2 separate regions of the Homo sapiens genome follow, and region 2 is linked to region 1. Evidence: fine-mapped expression QTL. A gene starts in region 1. The other region holds a variant in brackets. All regions are shown on one strand. Distances are between the middles of the regions.

The links. PIP is the estimated chance that this variant, and not a neighbour inherited with it, causes the effect.
Region 2: its variant is the best candidate, but not a certain one, in a credible set for the expression of CC2D2A in whole blood (TOPMed, PIP 0.55).

What each region holds. Positions count from the first base shown.
Region 1 is chr4:15,462,069-15,477,899 of GRCh38, forward strand. CC2D2A (coiled-coil and C2 domain containing 2A) reads left to right here and starts at 7,814. Exons shown (of 37, transcript NM_001378615.1): 1 at 7,814-7,989; 2 at 13,847-13,903. The coding sequence starts at 13,865.
Region 2 is chr4:15,440,775-15,456,605 of GRCh38, forward strand. It overlaps C1QTNF7 (C1q and TNF related 7), which reads left to right. Exons shown (of 3, transcript NM_031911.5): 3 at 1,394-5,393. The coding sequence ends at 2,025. LOC107986185 (a long non-coding RNA gene) reads left to right here and starts at 5,553. Exons shown (of 2, transcript XR_001741392.1): 1 at 5,553-5,587; 2 at 7,243-7,720. The variant G/A (reference allele first, on the strand shown) is at 8,076.

The DNA.
Region 1 (15,831 bases):
CATTCTTCAGTGTCCAACTTGAACCTTATTTTAGTCAGGTTTTCCCTTGTGATAAATTTTTCTTTCAGAGAGAATGAATCAGCTACAATCAAAAGTAGTATAAAATTCAAAGAACCAGTAAAAATGACACATTCACCTAAAGCTACGATTGTGTTTCACATGTACAAGTGTGAAAGGCATATTTTAGCCATTTATTGACCTAAATAATGCACCACTGCAGCTTTACCCCAAAGAGAATATAGCATAGTAGTCTCATATCGGGCTCTATAATTTTTAGTGTTGTACAGTATCCTAGTCTCCCAAAGAGGCTTCAAATGCATCATACTTTAGTGGCATTATCCTCAAAGGCATTGAATGCATTTGCTTATTTTTTTTTAGGTATACATGTGTCACATACTGAATGTTTGTGTTACCTGCAAAATGCATATGTTGAAGACCTACCCCGTAATGTGATGGCATTTGGAGGTGGGGTCTTGGGAAGGTGATTAGGTTCAGACGAGATCATGAGGGTGGGGCGTCCATGATAGGATTAGTGTCCTTATAAGAGAAAGAGAGCAGGGCTCACTTGATCTCTAGCCTGTGAGGACACAGATAGAAGGTGGCCATCTACAAGCCAGGAAGGGAACCTTCACCAGAACCTGACAATGTCACTCTTTGTTCTCAAACTTCAGCATCTAGGACTGCAGGAAATAAATGTCTGTTGTTTAAGCCACTCAGTCGATGATATTTTGTTATGGCAGCCCAAGCCAACTAAGACAACATGTCCTTTAATCCATTTTCTGCTGCTATAAAATAATACCACAGACTGTATAATTTATAAAGAAAAGATATTTATTTGGCTCACAGTTCTGGAGGCTGGGAAGTCCAAGATTGAGAAGTGGCATCTGGTGAGGGTCTTCTTGCTGCATCATAACATACTGAAAGGATCACATGGTGAGCAAACTGTGATGCAGAGAGAGGATGGGGGCAGAACTCATCCTTATTACCAGAAAACTACTCCTGTGATCATTAACACACTCCCTCAATGATAGCATTAATCCATTCATAAGGGTGGTGCCCCCATGACCTAATCACCTTTTAAAGGTCCCACCTCTCAACACTGTTACGATAGCAATTAAACTTCAACATGAATTGTGGAAAAAAACATTTAAACTACAGCAACATGTAAAAAGTATGTCCCTCAGAATTCCATGTAAAAAAATCATGACTGTATTTCATTCATTCATTCATTCATTCATATTTTTTCATTTATTTAAAGGTATAACTCCTATAGTTGTTATTGTTGCATAACAAATGACCCCAAAATGTAGTGGTTTAAAATAATTATTTTAGAATGCACATGGATTCTGGGAGACAGGAATTTGAACAGAGCACAGCTAGTTCATTTATCTGTGCTCCACAATGTCTGGAGTCTTCACTGAGAGAACTTGAACCTGAGGAGGCAACTAAACAACTTGGGGCTAGAATCATCTGAATGCTTGTTCACTCTCATGTCTAGAGCCCTGGCTAGGACAACTCAGACTAGGACTTCCAACAGAGTGTGTATGTGTAGCCTTCCCATGTGGCCTGGCTCCCTCATAGCATGGTGGCCTCAAAGTAGTCAAACTTCTCACATGGTGGGTCAGGGCTCTAAGTATAAAAGTTTGGGCAAATAACATAGAAACCACATCATCTTTTATGGTTTAGCCTCCTGATTCAGCCAGGAAGCCAGCATCACTTCTGCTATACTCTCTTGGTCAATAGAGTTACTAGTCCACTCAGTTACAAATAGACAAAAGATAGACCCCACTTCTTGATAAAAGGGGTGCCAAATAACTTGGGGGTTTTGTTTATAAAGCCACCATAAAGGCATACCAAGATAGAGCACAGGATGTTTATTATTAGGAATAATCAAAGGAATATGACCGAAAGTCTATCAGAGTTTTAAAATAATAAAGAATATTTTGAAATACCTTATGTCAATCACTTTAAAAAGAAAAAGGACAATTTCCTAAAAACATATAATATACTAAAACTGAAATAAGAAGAAATGTAAAACCTAAATATTTTGGTAGGGAGTAAAGAAATTGAGTCTGTGGTCAGAATTCTAGTTACAACCACCCACACCCATATACCAGTTCTCAAAAAAAGATATACAAATGGCCAATACGTACAATGGAGCATGATGCTCTACATCACTACTCATCAGGGAAATGCAAATTAAAACTACAGTGAGATACCACTTCATACCTTCTATGATGGCCATAATTTAAAAAACTAAAAATGGCCAGGTGCAGTGGCTCACATGTGTAATGCCAGTACTTTGGGAGGCCAAAGGCAGGCGGATCACCTGAGGTCAGGAGTTCAAGACCAGCCTGTCCAAGATGGCAAAACTCTGTCTCTACGAAGAATACAAAAAAAATTAACCAGGCATGGTGGCAGGTGCCTGTAATCCCAGCTACTCAGGAGGCCGAGGCGGGGGAATAGCTTGAATCCGGTAGGCAGAGGTTGCAGTGAGCCGAGATCGTGCCGCTGCACTCCAGCCCAGACAACAGAGCGAGGCTCAGTCTCAAATAAAATAATAATAATAAAAAAAACTAAAAATAACAAGTGTTGGCAAGGATGTGCAGAAATTGGAACCCTTGTACAGGGCTACTGGGAGTGTAAAAGGTGCAGCCACTGTGGAAAATAATTTGGCAGTTCCTCAAAACTTAAACAGAATTGCCATACGATCCAGCAATTCCACTTCTAGGTATGTACCCAAAAGAATTGAAAACAGATACTTGAACAAATACTTTTAGGCAAATGTTCACTGCAGTATTATTCAAAATAGCTAAAAGGTGGAAACAACCCAAATGTCCATCAGCAGATGAATGGATAAACAAAATGTGATCTACATATACAATGGAATGCTGTTCAGCCTTAAAAAGGAATGACATACTGACATATGCTACAACACAGATGATCCTTGAAAACATTATACTAAGCAAACTAAACAAGACACAAAAGGACAATATTGTAATAATCCACTTACATGAAATATCTAGAATAGGCAAATGTATAGAGACAGAAAGTAAATTAAAGTTTACCAAGGGGTAATGAGGGAAGGGAGAATGGGGAGTTGTTATTTAATGGGTGTAGAGTTTCTGTTTGGAGTGATGAAAAAGTTTTGGAAGCATAGTGGTGACAGTTGCACAACATTGCAACTGTGTTAAAAACTATTAAATTATACACTTTAAAATGGGTAAAATGGCAAATTTCATGTATACACATTTTACCATAATTTTTAAAAAACTTATTAGACCCAGACAATTGTATAGACTTCACAGAAATGATAAAGCTATTTTTACTTGAACTGTTACAAAGATGAGTGAGAGAGAAATATTAGTCTGCTTTTTTTTTTTTTTTTGAGGTTAGACTATCCTTTATCCTAAAATGAGACAAGAACAATACAAGGCTGATCTCAGCTAAGAACATAAATGCAAAAATTTCTAGAAAGTGGTAATTAAATCCAATATTAATTTTTGAAGTATCTTGACAAAATTGAGTGTATCCCAGGAATGCAAGCACAATTTGACATTAAAATGCCTGATAATGCAATTCTCTACACTAATAGATGAAAGAATAAAAATAATATTTAATTATCTCAAAAGATGTAGAAAAAAGCTTGTGATAATGTGATTCAACATTTATTCTTGATGAAAAACTCTTTAGCCAACTAGGAACACTTAACCAAAAGAATGAGATTTTTGTGTTATGATTTAAAATAAATTTGCTAGATTCATTTATTTTGCTTACATAAGAACTTTTGCAAGTAATGGTGTTTTGCAATGATACTTTTTAATATTTTTGGAACTTAAGAAGTTGTATGATTCTTATGAATTAGTTCAGTATTAAAGATCAAAGAGGACGTGCCCAGCTAGCTCTGTTGGCAGACCATGAGACTTTTAAAATATCAGGGAGGTAATAATCAGACGGTTAATTAGCAAAAGAGTGGTGAACAAGTCCTTCCTCTCATGGCAGCTGACCATTTCAAGTAGATAATCTCTTACGGTAAACATTCATATTTTTCTTCACTTAATAAACCTTGCAACATTTACTATGTGCCAGGACTGTCCTAAGTGCTTCACAATTATTAACTTAACAAATTTCCTAACAACTCTCTCTGGAATAGTTACTATTATTAAACCTCAGTTTCCTACAGAGAAGGAAACTGAAACCTAGAAAGGTTAAGAAAGTTGACCGAGATCCCTCAGTTGTAAGACAGAGCATTCAACTTCTTTCTCTCTCCTCTCCTTCTGGTACTGTACTGGATATGGTGGACCTCATCAATTTCTCCCTGTATCTTTTACCTACTCTTTCCTATTTTCAATATCTCTGTGCCACATTTCAATTTTTTAAACCTATCTTTTGCATCTCTTCAGCTCTCTCATCTACAGTTTAGCACATTCTTTGACTTTTATCTAAATTTGTGACTGTATTATTTATTTCTAAAAGTTCTATCTGGTTACTTTTTGAATTTGTCTGATCTTTTTGATAGTGTCTCACTCTTCTTTCATATTTTCAAATCCTCCTTGTATCTTCTTGAATATTTGGTCATTGTTATTTTTCCACTCTCCATCTGATTATTGTATTGCAAGAAACTCTTGAGTATCTAATAGTGTCCTCTGGTTTGTCTGTGGACTCTTGAGTGTTTCTCTTCTGTTGTCTAATTTTGGGTTGTGAGCTCATCTTCCTCTGTGTTTATTTGTGGACATCCTGAATTGTCCAATTGAAGGTGTGTTCCTCCAGAAAAGTTTTGTAATAACTTCTGCCTGGCACCCCACGGGGATACAGTAGACAGAGGCCACTTTTTAAAAGTTATCACTTAGGGGCCTCCTAAAATATATAAGGAGCATAAATAAGACAAACTGCATGGTGCAAACCAATGGTTGTAAATTCTTCATATTTTTCTCACCACATGCAGAATACAAGCCAAGACAGACAAGTTTTCTTATTGTCTTCTTTTACCAGCACGAGATAGTAGATTGTCCCCTTCAATTGGAAAATACATTATTTCATACAGTTGTTCTTGTATTACTCCTTTGGTAAATTATACTTTTCCATTTTCATGGTTCTCTCTTTTTATAACTACAAGCATTAAATTTCCTAGCCTGAGATCCTTTAATGTTTTTTGTAATGCTTTTCTGTAAGGGCAATATGCTAGCTTTGTCATTGGAGGATCCAGAAATGTCAGTATGTAGGGTCTGTGCTTTATAATCATTCAGTTTTTCCAGAAAATAATTTTCTACTTTCTCCAGTTTTGTGCAGGTAGAGGTAGGATGGGGGAGCCAATGGCATGTTCTTGATTGTCTAAGTTCTTGAGAAAGGTTCAGAAAGGGCCCTGCAACATCTTCATTTCATATACAGTTTTCAATCCTGAGACACACTCACTTGCTGCAGTACCTGGGAACTTGAGACCAGAGAGTCTCTGGTTTAACTTCCCTAGAAAAGAAACCGCCAGTCTCCTTTGGGCAGCAGCAGATGAGGCAGATGTGGAGGACGGAAATTATGCCTGAGGAATGGGCATTTTTCAGGCTGCCAAGAAAAAGGATCCTGAGGATCAATCCCTTAATATACAGACTTTCAAATCTTCCTGCATTTTTAGCCCCGTATCTCTCCCCACCTTCCTTAGTCTATGGTTGTATTAGTTTCCTGATGCTGTTGTAACAAAGTACCACACACTGAGTGGCTTAAACAGCAGAAATTTTCTAACAATTCAGGAGACTAGAAATTTGAAATCAAGGTGTGGCAGGGTTGATTCTTTGTGAAGCTTCAAGAGACAGTCTGTTCCAGGCCTCTCTCCTGGCTGCTGATAGCCTTGAGTGTTCCCTGGCTTGGAGATGGTGCTCTCCCCATGTCTTCACGTTGCCTTTCTTCTATTTTGTCTGTCTCTGAATCCAAATTTCCCCTTTTGTAAGGACGCAATCATCTTGGATTAGATCTCACTCTAATGACTTCATTTTAATGTGATTACCTCTGTAAATACCCTATCTCCAAATAAGGTCCCATTCTGAGATACTGAGGTTAGGACTTCAGCATCTTTGGGGATGAGAGAGAACACAATTCAGCTATAACACTGCTGCCCCAAATCCTGGCACAGTAAATCAGCTCATTTCCTCATATTCATGCCTACGTGCACACCCCATCATACACAGACACACACACACATACATACACGTACAGAGACACAAACACAAATACATTGACACATACACATGCATGCAGGCTGTGTCAAAAAATGTACTCTGGATTTGTTTTAATTAGGTATGGTAAGACACACAGACACAAACATGATTGGCACAAAAGAAGAAGTTTATACTTAACAGATCCCTAGAAACAAGAAGCATGGTGTCTTGGTTCGTTTTCTGTTGTTGTAACAGAATACACAGACTGGGCAATTTATAATGAACAGAAATTTATTTTTCACAGTTCTGGTGGCTGGGAAGTCCAAGATCAAGGGGCTGGCATCCTGCAAGGGTCTTCTTGCTGCACCATCCTATGGTGCAAGGCAAGAAAACATGAGAGCAAGAAAGAGAAAGAGAGAAAACGAGGCCAAATTCATTCTTTTATAAGGAATCCACTCCTGCAATAATGGCATTAATGCATTTATGAGGGCAGAGCCCTACAGCCTAATTGCCTCTCATTAGGTGCCACCTCCCGACACCATTGTGTTAGGGATTAAGTTTCCAATACATGCTTTTGGGAAGACACATTCAAATCATAGAACATGGCATGCCACACAGGACCACATAGGGAAGAACCAATGTTGGTCAGAAGGCAGAACGGAGACAGCAGAGTACAGCACAGAGCCTTTACTAGGGTTTTCCCAGGAAGGAATAGGTGAAGCAGGGTAGGGTGCTGCATAAATTTAGGAGTGGATAGCTTGAATAATCGTGGTGTTCTCTGGGCTATAGTGGTCTGGTATCTGGACCTGGGGTGACTTAGGACAGGAGGAATATTGGCTTAGTGTGTGAGAGTTTGATAATGGAGATGGTTGTGTGGGCTCTGGATTGGTTGGCTTGTATATCAAAGGAGACTTTGCATATTTCAGGGGAATCATTTGCTATCTCTAGAAATTAGCTAACATAGGAGAATCAGTTTCTCCAGGATCAAGGCTCCAAATGCCAGAGCATCAAGAATACAGAAAATAAGAAGATACAGTCAATACACATACACACAAACATACACACACCATACACACAGACACAAATACACACAAACACATGTGCACATACACACTAGTCTATTGGAGTGTGTTTCCTTGGCTCCATTCATTCTATTACTCTTCCAGCTACTTTGCCTCCTACCTCTCCCTCTTTTTTTTTTTCCAACTTTTTTGAGCCATAACATTTATATCCGTTTTCAGGAATTGCAGTGGGATTCAGAGAATAGGCAAAGATTAAACTTGTGCGTTCAACCTTCCACTTTTAACTGGAAAACACTCAAGTGCAACATTTGTTGGTACTCTGCAGCACCTCCACAGAGCTTTTGCTGCTGCCACGTTAGACAGCTTCACCATGTAATGACGACCTTTTAAGATTCTAAATCCCCCCACCTCTGAGCCTGTTCTTCATTGGAAATGCAAGACGACCGGATGACATGAGGGAGGGGCAGCTCTTAAGGCTTGACCTAATTTCCAGTGCTGCTCATGTTGATTTCTCTCCGTCCTTCTACTGCAGGCTGTGCGTCTCTGCTTACCCAGCATGCTTGTACTCCACTACTGGAAGTAGCCTGTCACTTTAAAGGAAAAAAAAAAAAGCTACCGAGTGACCTTCCTTAGGAACGGGTTGCTAAGCTGGTGTTTTTGCTCCAAGACATGGCTGCAGCTTCCCAGGGAGGAGCCCAGGGGCATCTCCAACACTCAGCCTTTCCCTCCGGACCCTTTTAAAAGATTCAACAGCACCGTCTCTCTCCACTTCCATCCTAGAATGCAGAATCTGCAAAGTGCCTTTTGTAAAGTTTCTTAAGGTAAATCAGTCCCTAACCGGACTTTAGGCTGCAACAGTGATTTCCTGTTTTCAGTTACCCGGCTTGAAGTTCAGCCTCTCCAGGATACCGTGAGACTGGATTTAATGAATTGTAAATTTAGGGGCTCTCATCGTTATTTATGTTTTTACTTTCTGAAATGGGAACATAGACCATTACTTGGCAGCTTTGATTTGAGCTGCTATCTGGTATCTGGTTTGCAGGAAATGTAAGTCCAGTTCATCACAAGTCCTGAGTGAAAATGCTCTCTGACCAAAGCTCTGTGAAACATTAGCTGCGTGTTGCATTTATGGGCCTTTTAGTTCAAACTGGCTTAAGGGGAGAAGCACTAATTACTGCAAAATACACTTTTCTTGGTATGAGACAGAGAAAGGGCTACTAACCACAGTGCTAAGAGTTGCTGTGCTTTCCAAAGACTTCAAGAAAATGTACTGGCTACAACTTAAGCTGATTGTTTGTTTCCCTTCATTGCAAAGAGGTGGTATGAAAAGCTAATAAAGTCAAATAAGAAATATGTTTGCTACTGCATTTTCATATAACCTTTTCTGCAAATAAATTCAGCACCAGCATGAAATCTCTCTCTCTCTCTCTCTCTCTCTCTCTCTCTCTCTCTCTATATATATATATATATATATATATATATATATATATATATATATCCTAGAGCTCACTTATAGAGTCATTCATTCAAACATTTATGGAGCATCAACAATGCACCAGGCAATGAATTTAAGTTTAGAGTGTGCAAACATAAATTAGACTAGGTCAGAAGCTCAGAATTTGCTGGGAAAACAGACCTATAAACACATGATAAGAGTACAATGAGCTAAGTGCCATAAGAGATTTATAAAAACACTGAGAGGACAGTGGGATGACATCCAGGGAGGGGCTTCCAGTACTTAGCACATCATGTAAATGCACTGGTCATATATCACGTAACACAGCTCAAATATGGTACTCATGTGTACTCTTCAAGGCCAGTGTACATTATATCGAGCTGATTAAATGATTCTATAAAGCTATTGGTCACTAACCTTATGCTAAGGGAAACTGCAGCTGGAATAACTTGTAGAATAAGATAATGTATTCCAAAACAATGTATGTGGCACCTCCCCAGGTGTCCAAGCTCCAGGAGGGAACAGAAAAATGTTCTCAGGGTGTGAGGAAGAAAATACTCATGGGTAGAAGTGCAGGAGGTTTCAGAAGCACCATAAATGGAAACAGCAAGGCAACTGCCCTGGGCCTGGCTGAAGGGAGGGAGACATGAAACATGAGTTATGGTAGCTGGGGGTTGAAGATTGGAGCTGAAGGTGGGTGGGCTTGAACATCACCTAAGGTCTTTCTCATGACTCCTCTTCTATCCCCCAAGCTCTTTTCCCTCCTCATTCCTTTTTTCCACTTTCCCTCCCCACAATCACTTTTTCTTAGTAACAAAACCTACCAATATTGAGAGCCCAGCCTGTGCTAGGCATTTTACTACACACATTTCATCATTTAGCCCTTATAAATTAATCATCCTTCAAGGTAGGAAGTATGATTGCAATGTTGCAGACAAAAAAAAAAAAAACGTGTCTCAGAGAAGGGAGGGCATTGTTCCAAGATCACACAGCTAATAAATAAAGCTGAAGTTGGAACTCAGGTCCACATATTCCTTGGCAAAGAAATATGTGGACCACTCTTCCTATAAACCCATGTTTTTGCCATCCTGGAGTAGGGCATATATATTGTATGATTTTTTAAGCAACCAATATGGAGTTGAGATGCGTTGTATCTCAACCTCCAGGTATGGCTCTGACCCACTGATGACTCTTAGGAATAGTCCATTTATTCAGATGAAGGTGTCAGTACTTTCCTTGAAAAAATATATCTGGTTTTCTGCACTGAGTAAAATAAATCATTGGCTTAATGTAGCCTAAGCCTTTTCTCACCAGTGCAATGCTTCACAGCTTTCAACTGTAAATATTTCCAGAATAGCCCACTATTCTGGAAAGCACAGAATAATTATTGATGCCATTGCAAAAGCAAGAATAAATGGTGAGATGGAGGGGTAGAGTGGAGTGAGGGAGGACTCAGGAATCACAGAGTCTTGGGATCAAGTTCTGAATGTGACATTTAATAATTATAACTTTGGAAAAATCATGTAAATTGTCAGAGCCTCAGTTTACTCATACGCAAATTGGGGCACATACTACTAAGCCAGACATGTTATTGTGAGGACTAAAGAGAACATGTCTATAGTTAGCACAAAATAAGTGTGCAGTAAATCATAGCTATTTTGATGTTGCCAGTAGGAATATATTAACAAGTACCAGTGCATAAGATGATGGCAAACTGCATATTAAAACCAGGCAGTATTGATTTATCTTTTCTTAGCAACAGTGTTCATATAAAAAATAAATTTCGGTGTCATTTGATTTCCTTAGAAACTCATTTAAAGGAAATGATCAGGAAAGAATGAGGAAAAAAGAAAATCCCATTACATTTTTCATTTTCTACTTCTATTTTTTTCTTCCATATAAAGCATTTATTAACTTATAGAGAACTTTTTTTAGTTACTAAAATGTTTCACAGGTTTTTTTTTTTTTTCAGTTTGCAATGACCAGAGTTGTTCATTAGAGAGCTCTCATGTACTTTTGCATTTCATCTTTATTATCTGCCCCCTCATTCACTCTAGGTTATCTCCTTGCCTCTCTATTTTCTTAGCTGCTTTTACATTTTCCTTCCTCTATTTTTTGTACCCTGTGATGAGGTTTGTAGAGAAGACAATAGAATTTCAGATGCTTTATTTCCCTTTAACATGCTAATTCCCCTGTAGGGTCAGTGAAACCTTGATCTCAGATGAGCTGCTTAAATGACCTGACCAAGTCCCAGTTAAGATTTGGGTTCCAAGGATATTAGAAAGGGCTTATGATTTGTCAGCCATATGCCTGTTGTTTCTCCATGTGTTTTCTCATTTAATCCTCACAGCAGCCTAGAAGAAACAGTGGAGCTTTAAATAGTCCCAGAATGTGGCTATGGAACCACAGCCAATAAGTCAGTGACTTAATCATTCATTCGACAAGTATATATTGAATGTCCATGATGTCCCATAATCCTAGTCTCTGGGGGTAAACAATAAACAAAATAATGTTTCTGCCCTCTTGCAGCTATATTCTAATGGATATGGGCTGACATTAACAAGTAAGTATGTATGTTGAGTGGTAATAAGTACTGTGAAAAAATCATTGTAAGGTAGTTAGGGAATTCCAGGAGGGTGTTGGGAGGAGATCATTGTATTACGAATGGTCAGAGAAGAGCTCTCTGATAATAAAATTTCAGCTGAGACCTGAAGAAAGTGAAACAGCAAGAGCCATGCAGATATCTTGGGAAAAAGGAGAACTAGGTAGCAGGAACCGCAGCTACAAAGGTCCTGAGGCAACAGGATTCAAGTGCAAATCACACAGGGCTTGTAGGCCTTGGAAAAAACTTTGGGTTTTACTCTGTTGACAAAGGGAAATCATTGGAGGATTTTGAGTGAAGCAATGTGATTATGTCACTCAAATTTTCATCAATTTGCACTGGCTTCAATGCAGAGAATATGGTAGCCCAGCAATGTGGCAAGCTGAGAAATTAGGAGTTTCTTGCAGTAGATTTCAAGAGAGAAGATGGTGTTTGACCATGGTGATAACAGTGGAAATGTTTAGAAGTGATTAGATCCTGAAAATAATCTGAAGCCAAAACTGGCAGGATTTCTGATGGATTCATGTGAGACTGAGAAAGGAGTTAAGAACAACTGCAAGGTTTCTGGCCTGAGCAAAATGGATTTCTGTTTACTACAACAGGAAAACTGCAGTACAAGGCAGGCTCAGGAGTAAAAGCAAAGAACTTTATTTGAGGTATGTAAAGCCAAGTGAAGGTGTCCATCAAGCAGATACTTGAGTCTGGAGTTCTGGGGAGATGTCTGGACCCAGGATGTAAATTTGGGAAGTATCAGCATGCAGATGGTATTTAAAACCAAGAGACATAATGAGATGGCCAGAGGAATGAAAACAGGCAGAGCTAAGCCCCACAGCATTCCTATCTTTGGTGGTCTGAGAGATAGGGAGAAACCAGCAAAGGAGTTTGAGAAGGAACAGTCAGTGGGTAAAAGGAAAACCAAGAAAGAACTTGTTCCAGGAGCCAACTGAAGAAAGTATCTCAAAAGAAGGGATGGGTCACTTTCATCACTAAATGTTTCTGACCCTTCCATGCCTGGCTTATTTCACCCACAAGTAAGTGAGAACATGCAAATGACAAACATGGCATGTTCTCACTTATGTGTGGGATCTAAAAATCAAAATAATTGAACTCATGGAGATAGAGAAGAGAAGGATGGTTACCAGAGGCTGGGAAATGTAGTCAGGGGTCGGGGGAGGTTGTTTAATGGATACAAAAAAAAAATAGAAAGAATGAATGAGACCTAGTATTTGATAACACAATGAAAGGACTATAGTTAATAATAATTTAATTGTACATTTAAAAATAACTAAAAGAGTATAAATGGATTGTTTCTAACACAAAGGATAAATGATTGAGGGGATAGACACCCAATTTTCTGTGATGTGATTATTAAGCTTTGCATGCCTGTACCAAAATATCTCATGTACCCCATAAATATATACACCTACTATGTACCCACAAAAATTAAAAACTTAGAAAATGTTTTAAATGCCTCTGACCAAGTCAAGTAAGATGAGGGCCGAGAACTGATCACTGGACATGGCAACGCAGGGGTCACTGGAGATGAATCATTGGCAAAAGCAGTTGCAGAGTATGCTAGACCCCAAAAATAAAAAAACAAACTGGAAAGAGAGGGAATGTTTTGAGGGATTTTTCTATAATTGTTGAAAAATTGAGCAACAGCTAGAAAGAGAAGTAAAGTTAAGAGAGGGCTTTTTTTGGCCGGGCACGGTGGCTCACGCCTGTAATCCCAGCACTTTGTGAGGCCCAGGCAGGCGGATCACAAGGTCAGGAGTTCGAGACCCACTTGACCAACATGGTGAAACCCTGTCTCTACTAAAAACACAAAAATTAGCCGGGCGTGGTGGCATGCGCCTGTAATCCCAGCTACTTAGGAGGCTGATGCAGAAGAATCCCTTGAACCTGGAAGGCGGAGGTTGCAGTGAGCCGAGATCGTGCCACTGTACTCCAGCCTAAGCAACAGAGTGAGACTTCGTCTCAAAAGAAAAAGTGTAGGGGGCAGGGGCCTTTTTTTAAAGGAAGGAAAAAATTACAGCATTTTTTCCACTGGTAGGAATGAGCCAATAGAGCAGGAAGAAAATCCAGATGAAAGTGAAGAATTGTCAGGATCAAGGGCCTGGAGGAGGAGGAATGATGGGGCCTAGTGCACTGTTCAAGGAGGGGCCCCATGGGACATGGGGGTTCATAGTAGCAAGTGGAAGCAGAGGAGGTGGCGGTGGCTCCATGTGGTGGGAGGGGAAGGGGATGTAGAAGCCCTCTCTGGTCTTGTCTTTTTACTTGGTGAAATAAGGGCCAAGGTCAAGGGCAGAGAGTGCAGAGGGGCAGTAGCGGAGATGAGCTGTAAAATGGTCCTTCTGGAGCTGGATTCCAACCAGTGCCATCCAACTCTATGGGCACAGTAAAGGCAGGCTCCCAGGGACAGGGAGACCTGGCATCCTTCCTTTCCTCTGGCACTTATCTCCACCAATCCTGGGGTCTGCCAGGGTTCCTGGTGAGTGGAAAGTCTACCCAGCTCAAACACTTCACTTACCATCATGGCCAGCCTCTTACATATCCATAGTAAGAGAAGCAATATTTCATTGATTTCAAAATGCCTGACTTCTTCATTGTTCTTTGTCAGGGACCCATCCCAGCCAAAATGAATCCCAGGGAAGAAAAAGTAAAAATAATTACAGAGGTAAGTGGCCACTTTGATGTCCTCTAGGGATGTGTTTGTGTGTGCATGCTTATGTTACACGTGTTTGTGAATGAGGAAGTTAGGCCAACCAGCATCTATTGCACATGTTAAAAGAAAAGCTTTACATGAATTAGATTCAACAGAGTCTAATTGTACAAAGAACGATTTGTGAATTGGGCAGCCCTCAGAACCTGAAGAGATTCAGAGAGCTCTGCTCTGCTCTGTGGGCAGACAGCATCTATGGACTGAAGATGGAAGTGGAGTACAGAAACAGCTTGATTAGTTACAGCTCAGTGTTGCCTTATTTAAACACAGTCTGATCAGTAGGCCACCTGTGATTGATTGACACTCAGCTGCTGTGATTGGCTGAGACTCAGCTACCTGCTACAGAAGCATACTTCTAAATTAGGCTTTCATTTAGTTTACTAAGATTGCAGTTTGTTATGTAAGAACTCAAAGTACAGAGGTATCCTCAAGCCACATTTAGTTTAATTTAACACACACCGACTAAATGCACCCTGAGGGTGCTATATCAGAGACGTGGTGGAGAAGGGGAGGTGGATGTTGAAGGAAATGCAGTCCTGCTGACATTCCAAGGTCTTACCTCTACCTGAATGCTCCGAAGCTGTTTTGTCACGGTTCTATGAACTCTGACACACAGCAGCTCAAAGTTACTACCTATTATTGAGCATAGCTCTGCCTGAAGCACGCTGATTTCTAAAGACATTCAGAATGAAGGTAACAATTGTAGACACCTGCTAATACAAGCCTCTGTCTGTGGAGTCCTGCAATTTCTGACTCATTGTATGTAAAAACTCATTAAAGCACTGCCCACACCAGAGAAGGGAGGCTGTCTAATTTGGAGACTGCAGACCATCCAACAAAAGAGAGAGTATTCCTCTCAATCCTTACTTCTCTCTCGCTTCAAGGGCTCACTGGCTTGAGACAACAAAGACAGAAATGGAGATGATATGTGCTGTCCAATGCAGTCCTCCAAAAAGCCTGAGGAAACTCATTATAAAACCATGCAGATTAACTTTAAGCAAGATGGCTGGGCACGGTGGCTCACGCCTGTAATCCCAGCACTTTGGGAGGCCGAGGCAGGTGGATCACCTGAGGTTGGGAGTTCGAGACCAGCCTGACCAACATGGAGAAACCCCATCTCTACTAAAAATACAAAATTAGTCAGGCGTGGTGAGGCATGCCTGTAATCCCAGCTACTTGGGAGGCTGAGGCAGGAGAATCACTTTGACCTGGGTGGCGGAGGTTGCGGTGAGCCGAGATCATGCCACTGCACTCCAGCCTGGGCGACAGAATAAGACTCCATCTCAAAAAAAAAAAAAAAAACTTTAAGCAAGATCAAGTACCAACAAACCCACATAAATTTATATTTGCTTATTCATTCATATAACCAAATATATTTTGTGCCTGTAGTCCCTGGGAATACAGCAGTAAACAAACCTTGTTCCCTCATGGAACTTACGTTCTATCTTATTTGAAGTCCTACTGGATAGTTAGAATAGAGGATGAAAACATCACGGAAAAGCAAAACATTACGTAGGTTTCTCACAAGTCCATTCTAAGTCAGTAAAAACTTAGAATTGAATTAAAAGCCATGCTTGCACACCTCAATATAATTATCTTCTTGTAATCTAAGTTGGCGAATCCCCTGAACTAAGAACACTCCCTATTAGTCAGGCCCAAAGAAGGAGTCCAGAGTGAGGATGCAGCTCAGAGGACAAGTCAGAGATCAGGTCACATACACAAAGGAAAGGCCCAAACCAAGGCTATTCTCTCGTTCGACCTCACTTCCGTCCTCTGTTATTGCGGTTCATGTCTTCCCTAACCCCAGTGGCCAAGGGCAGTCAGGAGTAATTGAGGTCTGGCCCAGAAACCTGCATGATATTTCTTTGAAATTATATATCCTT
Region 2 (15,831 bases), 21 kb before region 1:
TGGCAGTCATTGTTTTATGGTTATTGTAGCATGTTGAGCCCTCGCTATGTGCCAGATGCGCTTTCGAATTTATGCTCCTGCTGGCCGGGCATGGCGGCTCAGGACTCCCAAATCTCAGCACTTTGGGAGGCCGAGGCAGGCGGATCACCTGAGGTCAGGAGTTCGAGACCAGCCTGGCCAACATGGCAAAAGCCCCATCTCTACTAAAAATACAAAAATTAGCTGAATGTGGTGGTGCACACCTGTAATCCCAGCTACTCAGGAGGCTGAGGCAGGAGAATAGCTTGAACCTGGGAGGTGGAAGTTGCAATGAGCCAAGATCGCGCCATGACACTCCAGCCTGGGCAGCAGAGTGAGACTCTGTCTCAAAAAAGAAAAAAAAAGAATTTATGTTCCTGCCAAATGCTCTGGCTCCAGAGTCAGGCAGGCAGGCATGAGGTCAGACCACAGCTCCATCATTCACTAGTTCTCTTCTCTTCAGTAAAGTAACTCCTCTATGGCTCAGCTTCCTCATTTGCAATGAAAGTAATAATAATTCTGAGTTCATAAAGTCACTGTGAAACTTAAATAAGATAATGCATGCAAATAAAGCATTTAACATTGTCCCTGGAACATAGTAAATCCTTCATAAATATAAGCAAATCTAATTTTGATTAATTCTCTTATTATTATCACAAATAGAAATAGAATGAAGCCTCTAGGGATTTGCCTGGTTCTGTCTGCCCCTCTGGGCCCACTCTGAGAAATAATATCATCATGCTCATTGAAGGGTTCCTGTAGTGCCCAGTACCTATATGTGAATAATATAGTGGCAAGTGATCCATCATCAAAATGATAGTTAATTATGTTAAATTTGTCAGGATTTAAATTATTTCTTACATATTCAGGAAAATTGACTTAAATTCTGACGAAAATTTTCTATTTTTGTTGTTAGTGCACCAGTGATGTTTTAAAAGTTTATTATTGGCTGGGCGCGGTGGCTCATGCCTATAATCCCAGCACTTTGGGAGGCTGAGGTGGGTGAATCACAAGGTCAGGAGTTCAAGACCAGCCTGGCCAACATGGTGAAACCCAGTCTATACTAAAAATACAAAAAATTAGCTGGGCGTAGTGGCAGGCGCCTATAATCCCAGCTGCTTGGGAGGCTGAGGCAGGAGAATTGCTTGAACCCGGAAGGCGGAGGTTGCAGTGAGCCAAGATCATGCCACTGCACTCCAGCCCTGGTGATAGAGTGAGACTCCATCTCAAAAAAAAAAAAGTTTATTATTTAGTAGTACACTGTTAAATGTTGCCTGAAAAGACAAAGTTGGGATGTGCTGGGACCATGTAGGTATATTGTTTGTGATTATATCTTTTGAGGAACTATTAATCAAACTATATACTCTTTCTGAAGGTTTGAGAGGTAAGACTGGACCGCTAGGTCTTGCCGGTGAGAAAGGGGACCAAGGAGAGACTGGGAAGAAAGGACCCATAGGACCAGAGGGAGAGAAAGGAGAAGTAGGTCCAATTGGTCCTCCTGGACCAAAGGGAGACAGAGGAGAACAAGGGGACCCGGGGCTGCCTGGAGTTTGCAGATGTGGAAGCATCGTGCTCAAATCCGCCTTTTCTGTTGGCATCACAACCAGCTACCCAGAAGAAAGACTACCTATTATATTTAACAAGGTCCTCTTCAACGAGGGAGAGCACTACAACCCTGCCACAGGGAAGTTCATCTGTGCTTTCCCAGGGATCTATTACTTTTCTTATGATATCACATTGGCTAATAAGCATCTGGCAATCGGACTGGTACACAATGGGCAATACCGGATAAAGACCTTCGACGCCAACACAGGAAACCATGATGTGGCTTCGGGGTCCACAGTCATCTATCTGCAGCCAGAAGATGAAGTCTGGCTGGAGATTTTCTTCACAGACCAGAATGGCCTCTTCTCAGACCCAGGTTGGGCAGACAGCTTATTCTCCGGGTTTCTCTTATACGTTGACACAGATTACCTAGATTCCATATCAGAAGATGATGAATTGTGATCAGGACCAAGATCCCTGTGGTAAACACTCTGATTGAATCTGGGGTTCCAGAAGGTGGAACAAGCAGGAATGGGATCCAAAGAGACTCCCACTCAGATTCTAAAGCATTTAAAGACAATTCTAGCAGAATTTATCAAAACAAGATGAAACACAGAAAAGTTGAAACCACAACAAAATGAATTCTATTAAAGAATAGCCCCAGATATAAATTCTCTTGAAAGCAATGTTCATAAATATTTAAGCAAATTAAAGACAATGTTAACAAATTTTCTATTAAATGCCCTGAGTGATAAAACCAGTTGGCAATAATATTGCCTTATTAAATCTTCAAAAAATATATTTTAGTCTGTTATTTAAGAAAAACATAACATCCCAAAATCTTTGACAATTCTCGAAAGGCTATATAGTAAGTCAAAAACCAAAGGTAAGAGATGCTAACTATTTTTCAAGCAAGCTACAGAGAAATGATAAATGTTTTTTGTTTTATTATTTATTCCTTCATGTTTGTATATATTCACTCAACAACCCTTTAATGAGCCTGTAAGGACCAGACACTGTGGCGCTGAATCAGATTTAATAATGAGTTAAGACAAAGCCCCTACCTATGGGCTAGTGTGTGGTGATCAAACTATCACAATTCAGTGTGATGAGCAGCATAGCAAACAGATGGATTTGAAGCTAAAAGCACACAGGGTCTGCTATTCCTGAGGCTGGGGGCCAGAGAAGCTTTTACGCATGGAAAAACACTAATCATGCCAAGGTGTATGTGTTTAAGGGGGTGTGATGGATGCAAAGGGAATGAGGAATTCAGCACTGCATTCTCTTTGCACCCTCAATGCATGATTGGTATTCTCAACAGCAAAGGGGTGAAAAATCTAGAGACAGAGGAGGCCTGGCAGGGGTGATAAAAATGGAGATTGAAATGAAGAGAAATAGCCAGCAGGTGATTCTTCTGAATCCTTTAGTGTGATGGTTTCCCAAGACAAACATTTGTCCTAATAGCTTTCTCATAAATATGGGCACCACTTTACATTGTGGTAAGACATTGCTTCTCATGGATCTGCTAGGTATTTATTTCAAATAAAGCAAGGCATATGTTCACTGATTTACGAGTAAGCTGATGAGAGCAATGAACAGGAGAAGGAGGGAGAGAGCCAAATGTCTGAGTAAACAGATATCCCTTCCAAGTCTCACACCTCCCTTAGTCCCACTCTTGCTTGTGTCAGCACCTTGTTCTTCACTGAACTGCAATTCTTCAATTATTCTCTTCCATGATTTTGTCTGATCTACCATTTCTATGGTTTATGGTAATAGTATTCCCTTTATCCCTCCCTTTTGGTAACTTCCAATCCTCCTTCTATGTATTCCTTTCTCTGCTCATTGACTTATAAATAGTTTTCATACCTCTTATGTTTGAATCACCATGCTAGATTCTGTGAAGACAGAAGAGTATCAAGATTAATATATTAATAGTATAGCTCTGACTGGTAAATTTCTTTTTTTTAATCTTCCCCAATTTAAATTTTTTAATTTAAAAGTAAATTTTACTGTCGAAAATGCAAACTTGGGGAGGGCGGAAACATCACACACAAGGTTTCCACTTCACACTTGGAGGGTTGCATGGCGGCTGGGCAAAGGTGCTCCCCACTTCCCAGATGGTGCGGCGGCTGGCCAGAGGCACTCTTCACTTCCCAGACAGAGGGGCGGCCGGGCAGAGGTGCTCCTCACTTCCCAGAGGGTGCAGGAGCCAGCTCTGACTAGTAAATTTCTAAGGATACCAGAAAGGAAATGGCATGCACACACACAAAAAATACCTAAATTTTGGATGAGAAAATGATAAAATATGCTAAGTTCTAGGCTGGAAATAAGGGCAAAATGCTGTGAAAGAAGAGGAAATGTTTACTTCCAAATTAGGATGTGACAGAGAAGGGATAGGGAAATCCTCTCTGCTCATTGGGCCTTACATGATGGGTGACACTTGGAGTGGCACAAGTTGGGGGAAAGCGCACTTGAGACAGAGGTAATGATGGGGACGAAGTGAGAACAGAGACCCAGAAGGAGAATCAATGGACCATATTTGTAAGAGCTTTGAAAGCCAGCCTGAGAATTGGAGGATTTATTCATAAGAAAGTGTAGAGACCCTGTGTATTTCAGAGCTGGATACTGCCATTACCACAGATGAAAGTTGCAATGATCTAGCAGTTGTGTGCAAAGGCAAGGCTTGCTTTTCCTGTCTTTCAACCCTATCTTGCTTTTCCTGTCTTTCAACCCTATCTTGCTTTCATTGTCTTCATCTTCCTGCCATACTTTGTGCACTTATTGCTCTCCTTCTGAGTCAGGACATGTGTACAGGAGACCAAGAACAATGAGTATTAGAAAAAAAGGAGACAGCAAAGGTGGTTTGAGGTAGTCACCTGCTTACAGATAACAGCCAAAGATAGAATTCCAAGTTATAAAGCATAAAAAAGAGCCAACAGAAGTAACTAATCCGGGAAAAGTGAACATATGGGCCCTTTAAAGACTACAAGATTTGCTAGATAAACTGGAAATGGAGAAGTTATTGCAGACAGTCATGAACCACAAATCACTGTGATTAAAATTTTCTTCTGATCGTAATCCACGAATGCATTCATTTTTTGGACATTGCTTACTTATCTTTTAAATGTTTCTTTTATTACAAAGCCTATTTTGAGTAGCTTTTAAAACTGAATTTCCTTTAATTGGTTTGAAGCCTAGAGATGAATTTCGTTTTCAAATATCTGGTGGGATGGTAATGGGGATTAGAGAACTGACATGAGAAAAGAGGAGCTGTTTTGGTATTAAACGAATAAAATCTTAAGCAAATATAGGTGTCTTTTATTCTTAAAAAATAGCAGATACAGTTTATCCACATTTGTAAATATTTGTATAAAGAAAGTAGCAAAACAGTTTTGGTTTAAAAAGTTCCAAGTCTCATTGCAATCATTCTTTGTAAAGGCTGACTTGTAATGAATATGTATTAAGCAATATTTATTGACTATACACCATCTTGTTCTAGAAGAGTTTAAAGCCACTTAAGAAGATAAATAAGATATAAAAAGAAAACAGCAGTCAAAAGCAGATGAGAAGAAATGGGAAAAACAAAAAAAAAAGAAAATAATGAGGCTAATATAATGCTGTGTGTACATGAACATGAATGTGCCTGTGTTACACATTTTCAGGCCACAAATGTTTCTTTGTGCCCCTGCATGCACAAGGGTATTTCCAGGTCATTTATCATTGTGAACAGTGTTGCTTATGATAAAAAATAGATTCTATAAACTCTAAATATACTTTTTTTCTACCACTCTGTGTAAAAGATCATGAACGTAAATAAATTTTAGATATGAGCTGGGTTAGTCCATTTGCATTGCTATAAAGGAATACCTGAGGGTGGGTAATTTATAAAGAAAAGAGGTTTATTTTGGCTCACAGTTCTGCAGGCCATACAAGCAGCATGGTGCCAGCATCTGCTTCTGGTGCAGCCTCAGGAAGCTTCCAATCATGGTGGAAGATGAAGAGGGCACCACCATCCTATCACATGGTGAGAGAGGGATCAAGAGAGTGGGGGGGAGGTGTCACACTCTTTTAAGCAACCTGATCTCACATGAACTCATTAGCATGAGGACAGCACCAAGCCATTCATGAGGGATCCACCCCCATGACCAAAATTCCTCCCACTAGGCCCACCTCCAACATTGGGAGTCATAGATCAACATGAAATTTGGAAGGGACAAAAACATCCAAACCACATCATTAGGTTTCTCTCTTTGTCTCTCTCTCTCTCTGTAGCTCCACTTTCAGTAAATAGCATCTCTACCCACCCTGTACCAAAGTCAAAACCGTAAGGTGCAAACTAAATGTCTTTCCTCCCTTCCCTACTGAATTTTGCCCAGCATAAAATTCTTATGGTTCCAGCCACTAAATGCACATATCTGATTCATTGCACCTTTCCATTCCCGGTGCAAAAGGTGTCATTCATACATTCATCATCACTTCCCTTAATCAGTGAAAAACGTTGTAACTGGCCCTTTGCCTCCAACCACAACCCTCCAATCCATCCTCCACACTAGATTGAGTATATCCTTTTAAAATGAAAATGTGCATGCCATTTCCCGGCTTAAAAAACAGCAATGACCCTCCCAATCCCTCCGCTATAAAAGGTGTTTTGAACTTCTATAAGTTTTGCCATCAGGTGTGTATTTCATATTGTTTTCTGGTATCCATACCTAAATTCCTTCTGAAGGACTATCTTCCTTTACGTGCTAAGTCTATGAGCTTCTCAGTGGAACTGACACTTCCAGTATGTAAATCTCTAGCCTAACTCATCAGAGTATAGCATCCCACTCACCAAAATAATTGATTCAGGTGACTCTATGAGAGTCAATGAAACTTTGCTGGGACATCTATAGAAGAGAATCTCCTTCTTTTCTGTTGGACTTAAGCCTGTGAACCTCCACCAGCCACATTACCACCACAGAGCATAATACCATGCAAGAATAGACCCATGCACAGATGAAGCAGAGAGACAAAGAGAGAAAATGGGTCTTGGAGTCATCATTTGAACCCCAATCTAGACATATCTATAGCCAGCTGTTCCCTTGGACTTTTCAATTATGGAAACTGTTAAATGCTGTTTTTACTTAAGCCCTTTGATTATTTGATCACTTGGAAAAGATGTTATCCTACCTAATACTCATAAAAGCATCGTTTAGCATGGTGCATTGAGCCCTTGAGGATGTAGCTTCTGCAAACTTTTACAGTCACATCTTCAAAAGTCACCCACGTGTAACTATTATCCAAGAATATGCAGATAACTGCAATTCTAGGGTACTTTGCCCTAGGGTGCCTCACCTTTTCAGGTTCAGCTCAAAAGTTACTTTCTTTTCTCTAATCTTTCCCTTCCCCTGTGCCTAAGGAGAATTACAGATGACCACGTGTGTGTTCCTTGCCATCTGGGAACCAGTGCATAGTCATGGTAGCAATAGCAAACACTTACTGGGCACTTTTTGAGTGGTTTACATGTATCAGCTCACTTGGTCCTTGCTACGGTCTGCATGTTTGTGTAGCCTCAAAAGTCATATGTTGAAACCTAATCACCAGTGGGATGGTGTTAGAAAGTGGGGCCTTTGGGAAGTAATTAAGTCATGAAAGACCTACCCTCATAAATGGGACTTATGCCCTTATTTTTTATAAAAGGCCCCAAAGACCTCCTTTCAACACATGAAGACACAGTGAGAAGATGGCCATCTATGAATGGGGAAGCAGGCCCTCGCCAGGCATCAAATCTGCTGGCACCTTGATCTTACTTTCCAGCCTCCAAAACTGTAAAATAAATTTCTGTTGTTCATAATCTATGCAGTTTTTGGTATTTTATTATAGTAGCTCAAATGGATTAAGACAGTCCTCACAACAATTATTCACCTCATTTTACAGATGGATAAACTGAGAGGCAGAGAGGTTATGAAATATGTGAAGCAAATAGTAAGTGGCACAGTAGCCCTAGGCAGTGAAGCGCCAAAGCCCACTCTCTTAACCACCGTGCTGGCACATTGCTCATATATTTTTTACATTTGTCTATCTGATGGAGAGTTTGTTTGCCCTATTGATTTTTATATCCCAGGACTCTACATGATGACTGCTATAGTATGTGCTCAATAAAATTATGATGAATTAATTAGTGACAAGTTCTTTTCAGTCACAATCTACACATGTGGTCAGAGTCAAATGGGGGAGGTGTCACAACAGGAAAATCCTATTATCATCTTGTACATTAATCAATATTATTTAGATTATAACTGCCAGACTCCAATTCAACATGGTTCAAGTAAAAGGAAACTCACTGAAATAACAAAAATCCCAGAGCCAGACCTGGGTACCCAAACAATGTCACCAGGGTCTTATCTCTCTCCCTCCTACAGAGCAGCTCCCCACATTGCTGGCTTCACTTTCAGGAAGGGTATTGCCTTTATTTATTGCAAAGATGGCCACCAGCAACTCAGGTTTGCATTTTGCAGTCCGAGCAGGGGGAA[G/A]AAAATTATCTTTCTCAATAATTCCCATGAAATACCTGGAAATGACAGCCTTTTGATTCTGAATGGTTCTACTTGAATCATGAGCCTATCCCTCAACCAACAATTGGCCAAGGAAATGTGATGTTGCCATTGACCAGGCTTACATCACAACCCAGCACTAGAGCTCAAAGAAAAATCCATCTCATCTAAATCACATGGACAGAGGTGGTAGGAGGAGGAAGAAATTATTTCCCAAAGGAAAATGAAGATTTCAGGTCAAGAAAAAGAGAGATTAATTAATTGGCAGACAAAATTAACTAGAGATTTCCTAAGCTGTTTTCATATAAAATCAAAACCACATTTATTTTGTCTGCATGATGCAAAATAAACGTGTTGCTAGAATGATTTTTCCCTGAAATAATCTAATTTTTGATAATATTTGGTCAGAATTGGCTAAATATTTCATACTGTAAAAGCCTGGCATCTGTGATGATCTCATCCTACAGGCTGTCATAATGCTGATCTCCAATGGCCACTTTTAATGAAAGAATAAATTATTTCCAACTGAAATACTTCTTCTTCCCCTCAAACTCTCTGATTTTTGACATCAATACCCTAGAATAGGCAATAACATATGCAACTATTTTAGATAATGATAAAAAGAAGAGGAAGAGCATCCTTGGAGATAAGTCTCTATGGTATCAAAAAGAGCCAGTTTGAGGTTGCATAGAAAAGAGAACACTTACACACTGTTGATGGGAGTGTAAATTAGTTCAACCACTATGGAAAGCAGTACAGCAATTCCCCAAAGAGCTAAAAATAAAACTACCATTCAACCCAGCAATCCCATTACTGGGTATATACCCAGGGGAATATAAATTATTCTACCATAAAGACACATGCATGCAAATGTTCATTGCAGCACTATTCACAACAGCAAAGAAATGGAATCAATCTAAATGCCCATCAATGACAGAATCCATGGTACATATACACTGTGGAATACTATGCAGTTATAAAAAAGAATAAGATCATGTATTTTGCAGGAACATGGATGGAGCCAGAAGCTATTATCCTCAGCAAACTAACATGGAACAGAAAACCAAATACCACACATTCTCACTTATAAGTGGGAGCTAAATGATGAGAACTCATGAACACAAAAAAGGGAAGAACAGACACTGGGGTCTACTTGAGGGTGGAAGGTGAGAGGAGGGAGAGGATCAGAAAAGATAATTATTGGGTACTGGGCTTAATACATAGGTGATGAAATAATCTGTACAACAGACCCCCGTGACACGAGGTTACCTATGTAACAAACCTTTACATGTATCCCCCAACCTAAAATAAAAGCATTTAAAAAAAAAAAAAAAAGGAGCCCGTAAATCCAATTCATTCCTCAGCCAACACATAATGACAGCCCTGAAAGGAGAGATTAAAAAGCTACTCTCAGTTGTTAACTACATTGCTGACCTCATGTTTTCCTTCTTGTTTCCTTGAGAGATCACCAGTCAGTGTCTCATGATACCAGCAGTTACCATTTACTGTGTGCCTAGTAAATGGCACCATACTGGATCCTTTCAGCATGGTACTTTATTTTATCCTCAGGAAAAGCCCCTGTCAGTGGCGCATTCTTCTAACCTCTAGAGAGAATTCAGTACCACTCTCACCTTCTTCCTCTCTTAAAAAAAAAAAAAAAAAAAAAACACCCACACACAGAAAAGAAAAGAAAAGAAAAGAAAAGAAAAGAAAAGAAAAGAAAAGAAAAGAAAAGAAAAGAAAGAAAAGTAGCATTTGTATGGACGTTGGGATGGAAGCTTCCCAAGTTCTGGGATGCCGCTTCAGCATCAGAATGGAGAAGTTCAAAGACTCTCAAGGCCACATACCAAGTTCTCTAGGGGTTCTTCTCTCTCCAGGATGTGCCTATCAGTGTTCAGGCAGAAGGCAGCATAACACTTTCAAAAGGATTTCACTATGGAAGGTCAAATGAAAGAACTGTATTAAAGGTGCAGGTGGGGTGAAAAGAACCATGCAGGGATGCTGAAGTATCCAAGGACTAGCAACAGCAGGAATGCTTCACCATCCCAAATCCTGAAAAGGAGGAGAGGCAGTGGTGGTTGCAAAGTGCAGTGAAGAACTGGAGACTTGGCAGAGGGACCAGCCTACAGGAACTACACCTGCAGAAGAGCTCAGCCACTGCCAGAAGTAGGGAAGAAGCCAGGACTGTGAATCCCCTGACCACCCTCTTCTACCTTTCAGTCTCCTATTTATACCCCTCACTGGTCAAAGCCCATGACTCCAGGTGCCCAGATAGTCTTGGTGATGCAGTGCACAGAGATGAACTTCTTGGGCAAAACTCAGAACAGACAGGGATAGAAGATGGATGGGAGCCAGGAGAGAGGGTAGGAGCAACGGAAATCAACCAGCACAGGGCTCCCCTCCCAGATCTCTTCCTTCTCTAGTCTCTCTAAAACTCCACACAGCTTATGCAATAAAACTGGCTTCCTGTTTTTACTGGTTCCTTGAATGCATACAGCAGAAGGAACATTTTTCCAGAGCTGTGTAATTTATGCACAAGGAACCCTTGAGTCTCAGATGTGGCCCAGCTCCACTTACAAAAAAATTGCATGGGATCTTGGAGTGAAGTCCTTGGACTGATGAACAGAGGGTTTTTGCCACAGTGTCCCTCCTAAGTCCCTCTCCTAAACTTGCAACAGCAACAAACAGCTGGTGGAGATTTAGGAGTTCAAGATTCTAACCTAGTAGCTTTCCAGCTCATCATGAGTTAAATACTCTTCTTACCCCTTTAGAGGTAACAGTACTGAGGCTCAGAGCAATTGAGCAATTTGCCCATGACAAGCCTTAATAAATGTGGGATATTCTAGCTCTGCCCATCCACCTCCAATGCCCATGCCCTGTCATGAGCACACACACATGCACTCCCCTGCCTCTCAAGGCCTCTTCTTTAAGACATGTTTTCACAGCAAGATCATTGCATTATGGAGGAAATGCAATATCCACAATTATCTTCCTTTGATCCTAGCAAACATCATTTTCCTCTGACCTTAGCTGGGAGCTAAGCCTGTCACAATCATGACTGGCTTACTCATGATCAAAATATTCAGTGCGGCCAGAACATGCAGCTCGGCAAACTCTAAGGAGTCCCAAATATAACAACCTACTTTGCTCTGCCCAAGGAACAGAGACTGGCCCCAAAGGATTGATGCTGACCCTCTGCATTTGGTTTAGTTCCACAAAAGGAACCTAGGCAATCTTTTAGCATCATCGTTGTACTATCATGCTTAGAAAAATCCAGGCAGTCTAAATTCCTCTATACACACTACACATTCTTGTCAAGATTAATCCTAACAGAAGCCAGGAGCAAGTAGGACCACACATTCCACAGGCCTTGTGTGTTCCCTAATGTGGTTTGTAGATCAGCCTGAGACATGCCAAATATATTGGGTAACTGAAGACTCTTTTGAAAGAAAAGAAAACATAAAATTTGCAGTGCTGTACCATGGTTTTCAAGAGACTCATTGATCCCTTTTTATTTCTGCTCTGCATCACTGTTTCCTAAATTTGGTAGGAATCTTGCACTTTGAGCCAGATCCTTCTTTTTTTAAGGGCTGTCCTGTGCATCATAGGACATTAGCAGCATCCCTGGCCTCTGCCCACTAGATGCTAGTAGCATCTCCACCCAACCACGTGAGTCATCACAAGCAACAATATCTCCCATCATTGCCAAATGTCTCCTGGGGGGTCAAAATTGAGAACCACTTGTGAACCATATCTGTACAGTCTTGTCATGGTGAGAGAGTCTACACAGCCCCCCAAATCTACTTTTTCCAACTGACCTTTATTTACAGAAATGACCCCATAGCTGCTCCTCATTTCAGGTATGATATCTCTTCCCTTGTGAGAATCCCAAGTTAAAGAGACTCCATCCTGGAAGGTGTACAGGAAGAGCAAGAAACTGTGCCCTCATCCAAATTCTCTTTTACTATAGCCAGGATTTTTTAAAATGTTTTCTAAGATACAAAAATCACCAAGTCTCCTATTTCTAAGAATTTACTCCAAGAAAATAATTAATAATGTGTGCAAAGGTTTAATTGCAGAAAGAGCCCTGCAGCAAAGCTTGCAATATGGAAAATTGAGAAATAGCCTCAACATGGGTGAAATGAGCTGTGATACACTCATCCAATGAAACAGAGTCATAAAAAATGATGAGGATGCCCCACCAGGCACAAGAGCTTGCACCTGTAGTTCCAGCTGCTGGGGAGGACTGCTTGAGCTCAGGAGTTGAGGCCAGTCTGGGCAACATAGGGAAACCCTGTCTTTAAAAAAAAGAGGATGGAAATGTATTGGCACCATAAGATATTCACAAAATATTAACTAAACAAAGTAGATGACTGAGGAATATTTTCAGTACTCATTTCATTTTTAAAGTCTGTTTGCCCATATGCATAGAAAAAGTCTAAATTAAAATATTAATGGGGAATTTTAAATCTCTACTCTTTTGACCTTTATTTTTAATTTTTACAATAAACATTGTACTCATTTTACATAAAATATTTTATGTATGCTCTTAGGCTAGTTGCATATTATTTTGTTTCCAAAAATTGCAGAGAAAATGTCTAAGGAGAGAGAAATAAAACTCTTAGGAGTTGAAGTGTAAAACACGATATCATTCTTAAAGTTTCCTGGTGGCGTACCTGGATGTCTATTCCAGAGGATTTTTTAAAGCAAGATTACCACCAAGTAATACTAGTTTATATGTTTTTAAATTGTTTCTTCCTAACTAGAACAGGGAGGGAAATTAGTCTTGAGTTTACATCATTTTATTGAGTTTTTCTTAGTCCAGAACTATGAACCCAATGGATTACAACAGTATGAAGTCATTCAGAACCAATGCATTTGTCAGATGGCAAAGGCATTTATGAGCAGCTATATGAAGAAGACTGAATTCATGGCTTCACTCCAGTGCCATCATGGAGGTGGCAGAACTTACCGAAGTAAAGACTTGCCCAATATAGTTAGGGTTCCAAAAAATGATCTGCTAGCACTAAAAGGAGAAAAATCATAAACTCTAAGGGGTTGCATAGATGCTCTTTCATTACAAAAGTACTATCTTTTACAAGATTGTGAGATGCTGCCTTGGTGGAAATAAACAAGAAAAAACAAAGTCTCAGTGATCTATTCCAACCACAGTTTCAGATAAATTTGGCACCACTGAGCATCCCCATTGTTACTGAAACAGAAAACACTCAGGTCTTACTATTATTATTACTCCAGAACAACAAAGAGAGTTGCAAGGATTTTCTACAGAAAACATCCAGGTCTTACTACATGTAGAACTAAAATTAAAGCACAGCCTCCTGAGATGTCCCAGTTGGTCAGAATATTGACAAATAATAACTAGAAGGTTAGTATGTGAGATGGTCAGGGCCCAGAAGCCATATATCCATCAATATATCAAGGTGTGTCCACACAAGGAGTTGCCCACCTGATTCCCTTTTAGGGTTGCCAGATAAAATTCAGAAGATTCAAATATAAATTTCACATAACAATCATTTAGTAGAAAACTGTCTCAAATATTTAACTGGGTGTCCTGTATTCCTTTTTGCTAAATTTGGCAACTCTAAATTATGAACAAAAATTCACCTACAAAAACATAAATATGAGTCCAACTAACTTTTTGGAAGGCCGTGCATATAATTTCTCATATAACAAGAAGTAATTGTTCTTTTGAGAAGGGATTCTTAGCTTCCTAAAACAGTTTTAAAGGGCCAAAGTTAGCTGGATGAGAAAGCCATTAGAGAATCTTTTGGGTGGAAAGTCAGAAGACAAGATCTAGCCCCAGGAATTCCAATAATCAGCTTTGTGTGACTTTTAGACAAATCACCTAAATCCTTTAAGCCTCTGATTCCACACTGGATTGGTGGTGGAAAGTAAGTGCTGTCTTTCTCCAAACTCATGGCAGACATTGGTAATAGATAGAAGCATTTCTTCCCACTGTGCCCCAGGGCAGCCTCAGAATTCTCAACAAAGTCTCCAGGTCCATCCATCAACAAGCATGTACCCTTGAGATGAAATCAACTTGCCTTCCCTGAATTAAAGGAGCCTTTGGTTACCCTTCCAGTTCTAACGAAAGTTTGGAAACTCTTGTATTCTAATTCAATAGGCAAGGCTATACCTAGTTTTGCACTCCCAATTAAAAGCAAAACTTGGCAACTGCCTTCTGAAATCGCTATTTTACAAAATCAGAGCAGGAGTAATGGGTGCTGGAGTTCTGCTTGGACCAGGCCTTATAGGCCATTACTTCCAGCTGAGTGGCTCCAACAGCCCTCCAGGGCCTTGGTGGAGGCCAGGGTAGATCCTGACACTGGCCCTCAGTGAAGAACTTGACTCCACTCTGCTTCACGTCTCTGCTTCTTTTGCATCCATGGGCTTCTCATACCACTCACAGGTTTCCTCACCCTGTTATCTGCCTTTTCTACAGCATGGATTCTGATTTCTCATCATTTCAATCTCTGCTGGCATCTCCCAGCCCAGCTCTAGTTCATGACATGTTCTTTGCTTTAGCTCCAATTGCTCAATCCCTGCTGACTCTTTCTTCATGTCTCAGTTCAAATCCCCAGAGTGAGGATCTCATGTTTGGCAGGCCCCTGTTTATCAAAGAGCCAGCCTGGGGATTGGCTGCAGCTGATCCACACCCTCCTTCGGTCCCATCAGCTAGGACTGTGAATACTGGTATAAAGCACAGTTGCCTGCTCAAAGCCCATCAGCACGAGATGTAGGCAGTTTTGTTTTGTTTTTTTTCCAAAAGTGTGTCATCAGGTAGGCACTGCGATGTTCAGTTCATAATTTCACAGGGTCTTTGCAAGAACAAAATGTGGTAATATATGTAAAAAATGACAATTTTAGCAGATTTCCCCCAAAAGCAGACTCTGAGACAAGGACTTGAGTATAAGTGGTTATTTGGGAGTTGCAGGAAACACCAATAGGGTAGTGAGGAAGCAACAGAGCAACAATAACTGTGTCTGTAAGCTAACTGCCATTGTGGTTGATTGAAGCTCATCCCAAGGAGCTGCCCAGGAGAACAGGATAACACACACCGAATCAGCTCACCCAAAAAGGGAGGAAGCCGGAGTGTTTAAAGACCAACTCCCAAGAGTCATTGGCTGAGGACCGCTCTCAGGATCAATATTTTTCCAGCACTTTGAGAGTGCCTTTGGTGCTCAGGTAAAGTGACTTTGCAGGGTTCTGAAAAAAGGCTTCAGGCACAGAGATGGAGATAAGACAGTTAAAAATCTATCAAAGCACCCTGAATTGGTTAATGCAAGGGATATGGAAGAGGCAATGACTTCATCTGCCACCGTACTTGGTCAACCCTCAAATAAATGTTGGCCCCACAAGAGAAGGGGGTATTGTCTGCTTAGTTCCCTGTACCTGAAACTGCCTGGTGCATAATCAAAGCTCAGTAAATATTGGTAGGATGAATGAATGAATGAATGAATGAATGAATGAAGAAATGTCTATATAAATGAATGAATTATTTGGACAATTGTTGGAGATCTTTTCTATTTGTTTTTCTTCTCTTGTGAATAAAGAGGTAACGGGATGGGAGAGGGTAAAGGGGAGCAGCTGGGGGACACAGAACCACCTTGTACCAAAAGAAGCCTGAGTTTTAAGACCAACACTTTTTGCACAACTACCATGACTTAGGCAAAGCAGAACAAAACATCTCTCTCCTACACACTCCTCAAGTTGAATT